Linked DNA regions of Homo sapiens: regions 1 and 2 are each reported to be linked to region 3. The links are microRNA targets in miRTarBase. Many come from high-throughput screens and were not tested one by one. Region 3 holds a microRNA gene; each other region holds the end of a gene's coding sequence.
Evidence for each region. The annotated mature microRNA hsa-miR-378a-3p reads ACUGGACUUGGAGUCAGAAGGC and lies in region 3 at 2,253-2,274, opposite strand. An mRNA with a match to its seed (bases 2 to 7 or 8) in the 3' UTR can be bound and repressed. Matches are read on the target gene's strand: a 7mer-m8 pairs with bases 2 to 8, a 7mer-A1 pairs with bases 2 to 7 and ends in A, and an 8mer does both.

Region 1 (4,000 bases), not on the chromosome of region 3:
AAAAAAAAAAAAAAAATTCATCTAATTCCTCCCTTACACAGCTGAAGAAGTTAAGGCCCATGGTGATTTAGTGATTTGCCTAAAACACATCAAGAAACAGAGCCAGCTCAATCCAATGACTCTACTACTACTTCCATTTATGCAATCGGCTGGGAGCGGTGGCTCACGCCTGTAATCCCAGTACTTTGGGGGGCCAAGGCGGGTGGATCGCCTGAGGTCAGGAGTTCGAGACCAGCTGGCCAACATGGTGAAACCGTTTCTACTAAAAACACAAAAATTAGCCAGATGTGGTGGTGGGTGCTGTAATCCCAGCTACTCAGGAGGCTGAGGCAAGAGAATCACTTGAACCCAGGAGGCAGAGTTTGCAGTGAGCTGAGACTGCGCCACTACACTCCAGGCTGGGCAACAGAGAAAGACTCCATCTCAAAAAGCAAGAAACAGCAACTATGCAGTTGCTTAACTTGGGGACATGTGAGAAATGTGTCATTAGGTGATTTCATTGTGATGTGAACATCACAGAGTATACTTACATAAACCTAGATGGTATAGACTACTACACACCCAGGCTACATGGTATAGCCTTTTGCTCCTAGGCTACAAATACTATATTGAAAACTGTAGGCAACTGTAATATCATGGTTTTGTGTATTTAAACACAGAAAAGGTACAGTAAAAATACATTATAATCTTATGGGACCACTGTTGTACATGTGGCCCGTCATTGACTGAAACGTCGTTATGTGGTGTATGTCTGTACTCAGTACATTTTAGAAACTTCAGTAAATCAAAATACATTTAAATTTATGTAGGAGAAGAAAAACTCAGTTTAGATGTAAAGATTTCTGTAAGGCAACACTACAGAGACTGGAAACCTAATACAACTCCTATGTAAAAATTCCCAAATACAGTAAAAAATTCTTTACTATTACCTTTCATGTGTTTAAGGAAACAAAAAACTCAGGACACTTAAAAATAGACTGCGAAATTTACCTACTTGGTATTACACCACTAGAAACAGATGCTAAAAAGGTAATTTTATAGTGGCAGAAAACATATACACTAACGAGATTCCACACCAATTTTTATTTATATTTTGGGGCCTGAAACAAATCTTATAATCACCTCTTTCAAATTACATTTTATTCCCTTAATGGTGTGGTTTACCCCCACTCCACAAAAACAATTATGACTAATACACTAGAAATATTTTTTAATAGAACCTCTTAAACAAGACATTTTCATTAACCAATCCAGACCAAGGATTGTCTCAAAAATTTGATCTGTTAATTTTCTGGTGGTATTATTTTAGAAAAGATTTCATAACCAAATTATACATCTAATTAACTTATGTGTAAGTTTTTGCATTCACATCCTAAATCATGGAAACCCTACCTTATAAAACCTTACCACTCAAGGTAAATAAATACTATATCACATGTCAAGAAAATAAAGAATTCTCTAAATCTGCCACTAAAAGTCTGAAAAACCCAAATATCAAATTATAACACTGGTTTATGTACTAATAATCACAAATATCATGACGGCTTTTAAAAAAACTACAGACTTAACTGATAAGCTTGCAAATTACGGCAGAGTAAATAAAACTGTCAAATACTACTTTTGGCTCTAGTTCATAACTTGCCCAAAAATGTGCATATCATAGCCAACAGAATTTTTCTGTAGAATTTTATTTTGAAAATATTTCACTTCAAGATTGATCTAAAAAACATTTTAAGATATGAAAATGTTATACAACTTATCTATTACAAATTAATCAGATAATTCTGCAATTAGGTACACTGTGTTAGCTCGCCTACATAAAAAATATTGCACATTTTATTTTGTCTCCAGATGTGATCGATGTCTAAACTATATAGAATTTCAAACTATTTTAAAGTTATTCTGTGAAATGTCATCTTTATAAATATCAGAACTAAATGCACTGTAAACAGCCATTTTGGTAAACATGCATTTATTCACAGTTGATTTATTTCCTTTAGATAAATGTGTAACTGCTCAAAATTATATAATAATCTATGTAGAGGTACAAGAGCACACTATACAAATCTATTTCTATCTTCATGTTGAGGAAACACTGATCTTGGCAAAAATCTGGCATGATTTTTAAAATGAACTATTGCTGGTAAGAAGGCATACTTTAAAACTTTTCTGTGGCCTGCACCTGTTTTCTTTTTAAATTAAAATGTAAAAGCATTTGTTTTCAGAGATTCATTTATCACTGAGTAAGTGATTACATAAAAAAATGGACCCTAAAGCAACTGAGTTAAAATGCTTTGAGAGCCCCATTCTACTTGTAAGTTATCAATGCCTTAAACTGTTAGACCACTCACTAATCATAATTTTAAGAAACGGACAAAATCAGACAATTTTAATGTCAGGAAATTGACACAAACCTGCATAATACAGCATTCCTCCATTGATTTGAGGTCATATTATACTTTAAAAATATAAATAAATATATTGAATCATGAGTCTTATTTCTATAACCCCAAAAAGTGTTTCAAAATGCTTCTAAAACAGAAGTGGGTGACTGTAGAATATAGTTCCAGACTTGACTATTACTGTCAAACACAATCGTTCCTTACAAATAACTCTACTGGTGCACTGGCTTGATTGATTCCAGCAATTTCATTTTACAGGAGTGAACCACACGTTATACACACAGAGAATATATTACTTGAAAATCCCCAAAATAGGAAGAAAAGTTTAGAAAGTTGTCAAATACTTCCAAATGAAAAGTAAAGGTCTATTTCTAGCCCTCTTTCATACCCTTAAAGTTGGAATCTGGCAAAAGTCCATGGGTACAATTTACAAACTTTGACAAACTATTAAGTAAAAACCATTTTCTTTGGGGGAGGTGAGAGAAGGTACCTTTAAAACCTGTTATACAAAATTCCAGCTGCCTTTTTATAAAAGTACGTTCCTTAGATTAAAACCATAAAATTAAGGTGCAAGAGTTTAACAAAAATGAACTAAAGAGCTTTATTGACATCACAGTACATTCAAGAATAATTTTAAGAACATTACAGCTGAAAGAGAATGGCATGTTTATAGTCTTATTATGCACTATATTTTTTGAAAAAAACGTAATACAAAGAAATCCTATTAAGTAACTTGGAGCAGCATTGGAAAAAGTACACCTATTTACAGATTAAAAAAAAAAAAGATTCTGGTTTCACCTACACAGCCACAATGTGCCTCTATAATGAGACAAGCCCTTAAAACTCATGGAATTTTTTTAAAGAACATCATGGCATTCTTGCCACATCATTCCTCAGCGTTTACGACGGGGAGGGGTTGTTGATCTGAAAAAAAAGGGAAAAGACAAAATTTAAAAATAAAAATGTATTTTAAATTAAAAATCTGCAATTTTAAATAAATAATATTATATAGGATTTCTAACATTTAAGACTATGATTATTTATCAAGTACCAAACTGAGTTTATTAAAGAGAGAGAGAAAGGACACTTTCAACTTTGAATAAATTCAGTCAATTTTTTTTAAAAATCAGACAAAATACTTTAAAAAGTATACTACCTTGATCGGGACTTAGACTTGTGTTTGCGGCTTGCCTTCTTACCAGACCTTTGAGATTTCTCCACGGATCGCGATCGACTATGTTTAGGCTTCTTAGCCTTCTTTTCTTTGCTACTTCCTGGAGACTCAGAACTGCTCCTTCCACTAGAATCAGAGCCTGAATGTTTTTTACTATCTTTGGTAGTACTTTTCTTACTATCCTGTCTAGAATCATGTCTTATGATTTTAACAGATATAGAACCACTCCTAGAAAATGTTCTTTCACTTTCTCGTTTCCTTTTTAATCTATCATCCTGACTACTGAACTTAAAATCTTTTTCTTCCCTTTTTTGTTTCTCTTTTCTTTTATCCTGTTCACGTTCCCTTTCTTTGTCTTTCTTTTTCCTATCTTTATCTATACTTCGACTCCTCTCCTTTTTCCTCTCTTGTTCTTTAGCCTCAC
Region 2 (4,000 bases), not on the chromosome of region 3:
AGTGCTGAGGATAGGATAATCCCGTTTTGCCCTTCATTATACCAACGTATAGCACAAAGTAGACAAAGCACTAGGAATGGCCGCTGTTTCTGAAAAGTTACTGAACATGCTCAGTGGTGAAGAAGGATTGAAATATTGCAGCATAGGCAGATTTCAGGAAGATGTCTTACAGAAATTTTGTTACATTACCCCAGGCTACTGCACTTTACATATTTGAAGGACAACACATTATATTAAGCGAAGGAAAATTGATTTAACTGCTGGCCTCTGAAAAATTCTCTTTTCTCCTACCAGGTTCTACACATGTTTTAACACCCAAAAAGCTGTTGGATGATATAAAGATGCTGAATAAACCCAAGGATAAAGTCTCCTTAATTAAAGATGAATAGCATTTCTTTTTGGAGGGTTTAGAGATTCTTACTAATATGTTGAACTAAAATAGAAAGAAAATGTTGCTGTCATGTAATTTAAACAATGTAAATATTTTATGGAATAATGGCTTTTCAAATACATTTCTTAAGGAACTGTTTATGATTATTACTGGATTTGTCATTTTTGATAATTTAAATATTGCTGCTGCTTTGTAGATGATGAGAAGAAATGTTAAAGTGCTTTCTAAAAGGAAATTTTTTCACCTTTGGAGGAGAATATATTAGAGTTGTGGGTAATTTTTCACAGCCACCTATGTACATACTAATTACCCATTGGATACTTATATCTAAAAGTCTCATGCTGAAGTATAGTTTTTGGGAAAGAATGATTTTAAATAAAGAGATTGTAAAAGTAAAAAACTGTAAATGTATATGTATGATAGAATTGTTTCCTCTAAGTGTAGTTTTTCTTTCAACTAAAATTCAGTTTATGTGTAAAATAATTCAGTCATTAATAGAAATGGAGTGATTTCACAGTGTGTACTGTTTTGCCACATACTTCTAAAGAACACAATTTTATATAATTTTGAAATCATGTATGTTTAAATTAGAAAACCAAAAATCATGAACATTCTAAGAGAAAATAAATATAGAATTTAAAAAATTATTCTGGTTTGTGTTTTCTGTAGGGGAGAGGGGAAAGTTACAAATTTTAAAAGTTCTAAATTAGAGTAACAAAGAAGAAAAGGAATCTACCGTAATATTCCCACCAAGATAACTCCTAATGACTTTTTCAAAAATAACGTAATCTCTATATAGGGTTAGATAATATATGTCTGCAGATGTGTTTTGTTAAACAAAGGGAACATCTTTGTTTCAAATCTCTTCTTTTACTTGCCCTCATAGTGTTCTGTCATATGGCAGACCATAGTTTTATTGATTCAGAGTTTTGCTCTTATAAATAATGCTGCGTTGTTTGGGTACATACCTTTGCAGACTTACACAGACATTTCCATAATGTAAATTCCTAGCAGTGGTCAAGGGATTTGTGCATTTAAATATTGATGGATATCCATTTTTAATTTTTATTTAAGTAAATCCATCGCTTTTCCATTTTGGCTTCTGAATTTCACATGCTACTTAGAAATACCTTCCACACTCCAGGATTATAAATTTTTGATAGATTCATTCTATTTTTTTACAGGTAACTCACCCATCTGGAATTGATTTTAGTGTAAGAATGTGTGCTAGATATTGTCTCTTAGTACTTGGCATGACGTCCCATGCCTCCTTACCCCATACCACAGGGGATGAAAGGCTAAACATGAAGTTTTTCAGGTTCTAGGATAAGTAAGGTCTGAACAGTTTATATTCTACCAATGATGTGCACTTGGTCAAGATTTGGAGGCAGAGGCCATCTACTATGCCAGTAAGCAATCTCCCGCAGACAGGAATTGTTTGTAGCAACCAGACTCCACATTTTAGTGTCTTGTCGCCTGCTTCGTGGGTATGAGTTAATGCTGTGGCAGCAGCACTAGCTTCCTGTCCTTTGGGTCACAGATGGTAAAATGATCGTGGGTCTCCAGTTTCTGCTCCTACTGCTTTTTCAGTGATTTTTGTAACGACCTAATTCTCTGTATTAAATGCCTTTCTGCTTGAAATATCTAGAGAAGTTTGTTTCCTGCACAGAACCCTGACTTGATGGAGTATTTCATAGTGGTCCAGCTTCACTCCTTTCTAAACAGCCAGATGTTATACCAGATCCTATTGGATAATCTCTCTTTCCCCAACTAATCTGAAATACCACCATTATCATAGACTAAATTTCCATTTGTATTGTGGTCTATTTCTGGATTCTCTTTTAATGACCTACAGTTTGTTTTGTATTTCTTTTTCCCTATTTCAATTCATGGTATGTTTCAATATGTAGTGGAAGAAGTTCCTATTCAATCCACCTAAATTACTATTATTTTTCAGAAATTTTCTATCAGATTTTTCTAGATGAATTTTAGTATCCTTTTGTTGAGTTCCCAAAAAAAGCCATTTTGGTATTTTCATAGGATTTGCATTGTTCCTAGGTTAACTTAGGAAAAATCAACATCTTTTATAATATTGAAACTTTGATATTCAGGAATGTGAAATGTCTTTTCATTTAAATCTTCATAACCTTCAGAATCTTCATTTTCTTCATATAGTTACTGCACATTGTCAAAATATTTTTGTAGTTCCTTTGTGGGTTGAATCTTCTACTATTTTCAAATGGTTTTTTACACATAGAAATTTATTTATTTTTTTTTAAATAGAGACAGGGTCTTGCTATGTTACCCAGGCTGGAGTGCAGTCATGTGATCATAGCTCACTGGAATTTTGAACTCCTGGGCGATAGTGATCTTCCTGCCTCAGCCTCCCAAGTAGCCAGGACTACAGGTATGGGCCACCACATATGGCTAATTTTTGGGTTTTTTTGTTTTTGTTTTTGTTTTTTTGTATAGACAGTCTCACTGTGTTGCCCTGGCTGGTCTCAAACTCCTGGGCTTAAGCAATCCTCCTTCTCAGCCTCCCAAAGTGTGGGGATTACAGGTGTGAGCCATTGTGCCTGGCCAACTTTTGATATGTTAATCTTACAACTTTACTAAGTATTGATAATAAAGTAATAATATACAAATGCTTACTTAGTGCTTTCTATTATTAATTCATTCCATCTTCTCGTGTATTCCTGTGAGCATAGGTACTGTGATTATCATCTTTATTTTAAAGCTGAGGAAACCGACACAAAGAGATGGATGTAACTTGGTGTGGATGAGTGCATGGAAAGGAAGGGCCTGGCACAATAAACAGCCCTCTTTGCAAACTACGCATGAAAACAATATATCTCCAGTAAGAGGATTAGTTTTTGGTGTCTGCATTTTATCTGAGATCTTTGTGTGCCTCAGTAACTCCCTCTCCAGGGTCAGAACATGTGTGGAATAGGTATTTAGATTAATCCAATGGCCTGGAACAAATGGAACTAAGAGTGTGATGACAGCAAACACTGGACTGTTTATTCATTTGATCACTTGACATCTCAGTGACCACTTTACCCTGATCACACTGATATCGGATGTTTTGAGTCCTGTATTTCACATATATGTTAAGCTTTGAATTGCAGAGACCCTTTGTTTACAAAATCTCTTATGAATTTGAAGCCATAAGACGTCATCTCACATAAATTCCTTGTATAAGCTGATTTTTTTTCCCCCATAGAATTAGCAATTACAGGCCAAAGCAGGAGGATCACTTGAGCCCAGGAGTTTGAGACGAGCCTGAGCAACATAGTGAGACCACATCTTTTTTTTTTTTTTTTCGTTCTATGAATATTCCAAAAGTGAGACCACATCTTTACAAAAAAAGGAAAAAAAAAAAAGCTGGGTGTGGTGACACGTACCTGTGATCCCAGCTACTACTCAAGAGGCTGAGGCAGGAGGATTGCTTGAACCAAGGAGGTGGAGGCTGCAGTGAACTGTGATCACACCACTGCACTTCAGCCTGGGCGAGTCAGTCCCTGTCTGAAAAAAAAAAATTACAGGTTTTGATTTCAAGACCCAGAAAAAGACTTTTTTGTTGTTGCAACCAATGGAAACCATTTATTC
Region 3 (4,000 bases):
AGTCTCACACAGATAAAGAATGGGCAAATGCACCCAGTGAAGGCTATGCTTCAATCTTCTCCCACACACTATACATTTGTCCAAATCTACAAACTGATTTGAAAAAGAAGTTGGCCCTGGCTTCAAGGGGTGTGTGGAGCCATTTTCCCAGTTCTCCATGTGGCAGGGGGCCCTTCTGGGTGCTCAGTCCCAGCTTTAGAACAACGAGGAGACAAGATACCAATTGCAAAATGGGCCAAGTTCAGAAACACAGAACCACAAGTCACCCATGATCATATGGGGAAGAAGTTTAGCATCACAAGTAATCAAATAAATGCACATTAAAACAATAAGGGTAACAGAATTTATTGACGAACAGACTGGTAAAAATGAAAAACAATGAAAATATCAACAGTTATCTGGGTATAGGAAACCAGGTGTTCCCAGACCATGCCAGTGCACAAATAAGTACAATCTTTCTAGAAGAGAATCCAGGAATGAGTTTGATGGAGTAATTTCACTTCTAGGAACTTAAAGGAAGAAACAAAGACATACATAAAAAGATATTCGTTTTAGCATTGCTTACAATAGCAAAATAAAAAAATTAAACAACGTAAATGAGTAACGATAAAGGATTAATTAAATACATCTCGGTTCAATCTTCAACAAAACATTATATAATCATTAAGATACTAAGTAGAATATTTACTGATGTGGAAAGATGTTCACAGCATATTGTTTGGAAGAGGAAAAAAAAAAACAAGTTACAGAACAGTGCAATTCCAAGTTACAAATCAGTATATTCAGGATAACTCCTTTTTTTTTTTTTTTTTTTTTTTTGAGAATGAGTTTCGCTCTTTTGTCCAGGCTAGAGTGAAGTGGCGCGATCTCGGCTCACTGCAACCTCCGCCTCCCGGGTTCAAGCGATTCTCCTGCCTCAGCCTCCCAAGTAGCTGGGATTACAGGTGTGTGTCACCACGCCCAGCTAATTTTTGTATTTTTAGTAGAGACAGGATTTCACCATGTTGGCCAGGCTGGTCCGGAACTCCTGACCTCAGGTGATTCACCCGCCTCGGCCTCCCAAAGTGCTAGGATTACAGGGGTGAGCCACCGTGCCCGGCGACTCCATTTTTTAAAAATAAGATGTGATCTATATGAACAGGAAATAAACAGTCTGGAATATACATGACAATTAAGTGGTTATCTTTGGGTCATGTTACATATTTCTCATTTTTTTCTTTATGCTTGGCAGTATTTTCTAACAATTCTATAATTAAATATTTTTAAATAAGTTGTTAGAACTGATGATTTCTAACATTCCCGCTGCCAACTCTGACATTTTGTGCATCTATGACTGATGCCCTAAGCAACTTCAAATAGCCCATATTTAGTGTGGACTTGCTGTGTGGCCTTTGGGGTCTAAAATTTTGCCCACAGCTGCAGCCCTCTGCATTCCTCTCTCCCACACTCGCTGCCCAGCTGTCTCCCCTGCTAGCCTGGGAGCTTCTGCTTGGCAGGACCCAGCTGCACCCCTGTCTGTAATCCATGTGCCTAGCCAAGAGCTAAGCAAAGGAACACAGCTCAGCATACTGACAGGTGCCTTGCAGGCACAATGATAAAAGGTACAACCCTAGTGCTAGAATCTTACTGGACACCAGACTCACACAAAGTGCTTGGTTGTATCACACAGATGCAGAAAACCAAAGGAGAGAAAGCAGGGCAAGCTGGGCTGGGAGAGCCTAGTAGAGGAGAAGGCCATGCAGGACGGGTGAGTGAGGGTACTCTGGGCCAGGGGCATAGCCTGAACAAAGGTGAAGCCACCCACAGTCCTTTGGGATCCATGCCTCAAAGCTTTCCAAGAAACTTTCGCAATCCTTGTTCTGCTAAATTTCCGTACTTTGGCCCCAATGGGTAAAAGTTAAGTCTCCTAAACAGAAGTCCTCCCTCTAATCTAACCCTGGATTAGCCACCAAAGACAACAACAATCTTTTGGGACAAAGACAATGAATTACCATTTAATCCACTTTCCCCAAAGCTCCCAAAGGGAGATGAAGGAGGGGAGGGTCAGGGAAAGTTTGGGGGAGGAGAGGGGGTTGCAGGAACAACCAGAACATCTCACATGCAAACACTGCTCACCCCCACCACCAGGCCATTGGATTCTCTTGCGGCACCACCAGCCCCATTTGACAGATGGAGGAAATGAGGCTCGGAGAGTTCAAATGGCTTGCTCCGGGGTCACCCAGCCAGAGAGTGGGGAAGGTGACTCCACTCAGGCCTTCTGACTCCAAGTCCAGTGCTATTTCTAGGTAACACACAGGACCTGGAGTCAGGAGCCCTGGGTGGCTCTGTCACCCTCTGGCTGCATGGTCCCATACAAGCCGCTCACTCCTCGCAGCCTCTTTCTCCAGCTGTAAAATAAGGAGGAGCACACTGGGCCCGCCCAGGTCCTCTTCCGGCTGGGCTCTCCGAGCCTTCTAGGGGCGGCTCAAAGCTCATCCTATCAATTACATTTCCCAAGTTGGGCCGGCAAAGATCACCAGAAGATCCTCGGCCTGTCATGTGGTTAAATAAAAAAAGCAAATGTCCCAGATTAACTTTCACTGCACTGCTCCTGCAAACACCTGAGTATTCAATTTTCTAGTTTCCTTAGTTGAAATATTTCTGCTAGCTAGGCTCGCTGGGCGGCTAAAGGGCAAAATAATTAATTATTGCTGAGCCAAACACTGAAGATCGAGTTAAAATCCGGGGTACAGTCCAAAGCGGACAGTTCTTGACATGGGTCCCTGAACGAGTCTCCGGCTATTTCAGGCCTCTCTCATCCGCTTTTCAGCCAAGAGATTCGGAGACGCCCCAGGGCAATTTCGAGATCTGGGGACAGAATCTTCCCAGGAGTGACTCTGCCCCTCCTCCCGCACTCAGTGCCCGCTAGCCCCAAGCTGTCGGCTCTGGGGGTACTGAGGCTGGGACCTGCCTTCGGCGCAGACACCGGCGCGGGGCGTGTGACGGAGCCCGGCGACGACGGCGGGAGCTCCACCGCAGTTTCGTCAGAGGTAAAGGTACGCGCCCGGCGCGCGCGGCGTGTGCACACACACACACACACACACACACACACACACCCGCGCGCGCAACCCGCTCATCACACATTCCCCTCGATCTCGAGAAGCGCAATCACACGCCACTAGCCCCTCCGGCCTCTGCCGCGAACCCACCCGAGCGCGCCCGCCACCGACCACGCGGCCCCGCGGCTCCCCTACGCAGCGGCGTCTGCAGCGGGCCAGGGGCGGCCTGCCTCCCGCGTGGCGGGCTTCCTCTCGGCGACACCCTGCCACGCCACGCCGTCCCAGCCGCCAGCCCGAAGTCGCTGCCCGGAGCTGAACGTCTCGGCTGCGGCGTCCCTTCCAAGTCGCGTTTCACCGCAAGGAGTCAGCTTGCAAGCCTCTCCCCGCCCACCCGGTCCCATGACAGCTGCTGCCGCCCAAAGACAGGCAGATTATAACAAGAAGCAAAGTTTCCCTCTCTCTCCTCCCACCTCCCTCCCCCAATCTCCGCCTTCCCCCTCCCTTCCACTGTTATGCAAAACGGGCCGGCACCGGCGCTCCCACTCCAGGTACCAAACCAGCCCCCGCGAGCCGCGCCCGGTTCCGCCCGGCCGCCCCTCTCCGTGCCCAGGCGTGTGCCAGCACCCGGGGCTCCTCCGAGGTTCCGCCGCATCCTCAGCTTCCCAATGACCCGCAGCCGGGCGCCCAGAGAAAAAGCCCTAACTCTGGAGCCAAACTTTATGCTTGCAACAGGCATTGGGTGGGGAAAATGGGGGAAGGGGTGGGGGCCGCGCACGCCTCGTGCTGACATTTTTGGTGGCTGCTTGTCCCAGCAGCACCCCTCTCCCAGTCTCCAAGCCACCAGCTTCCTCGCTCCCCCGCGCCCCGGCACACCAGAGCACCCTCTCCTGTCACGCGCGTGTCGCCAGTGGGGCTCCCGGGCTCAGCCAGTGCCTGGGACTCCGCCTCGCCTTCCCTTCCCC

Region 1: miRTarBase lists PNISR as a target of hsa-miR-378a-3p. The part of its 3' UTR that is shown has no 7-base or 8-base seed match.
Region 2: the mRNA of STXBP3 is a reported target of hsa-miR-378a-3p. The part of its 3' UTR that is shown has no 7-base or 8-base seed match.

The regions. Positions count from the first base shown.
Region 1 is chr6:99,396,986-99,400,985 of GRCh38, forward strand. It overlaps PNISR (PNN interacting serine and arginine rich protein), which reads right to left. Exons shown (of 12, transcript NM_032870.4): 12 at 1,065-4,000. The coding sequence ends at 3,555. Among named protein-coding and RNA genes, the nearest start is that of COQ3, 4.8 kb to the left of the region's middle.
Region 2 is chr1:108,808,489-108,812,488 of GRCh38, forward strand. It overlaps STXBP3 (syntaxin binding protein 3), which reads left to right. Exons shown (of 19, transcript NM_007269.4): 19 at 295-1,035. The coding sequence ends at 389. Among named protein-coding and RNA genes, the nearest start is that of AKNAD1, 47 kb to the right of the region's middle.
Region 3 is chr5:149,731,141-149,735,140 of GRCh38, reverse strand. MIR378A (microRNA 378a) reads right to left here and starts at 2,316; the gene lies at 2,251-2,316. The region is part of intron 1 of PPARGC1B (PPARG coactivator 1 beta); the gene reads right to left. RefSeq lists silencers at 3,164-3,393, 3,424-3,513, 3,534-3,583, 3,594-3,693.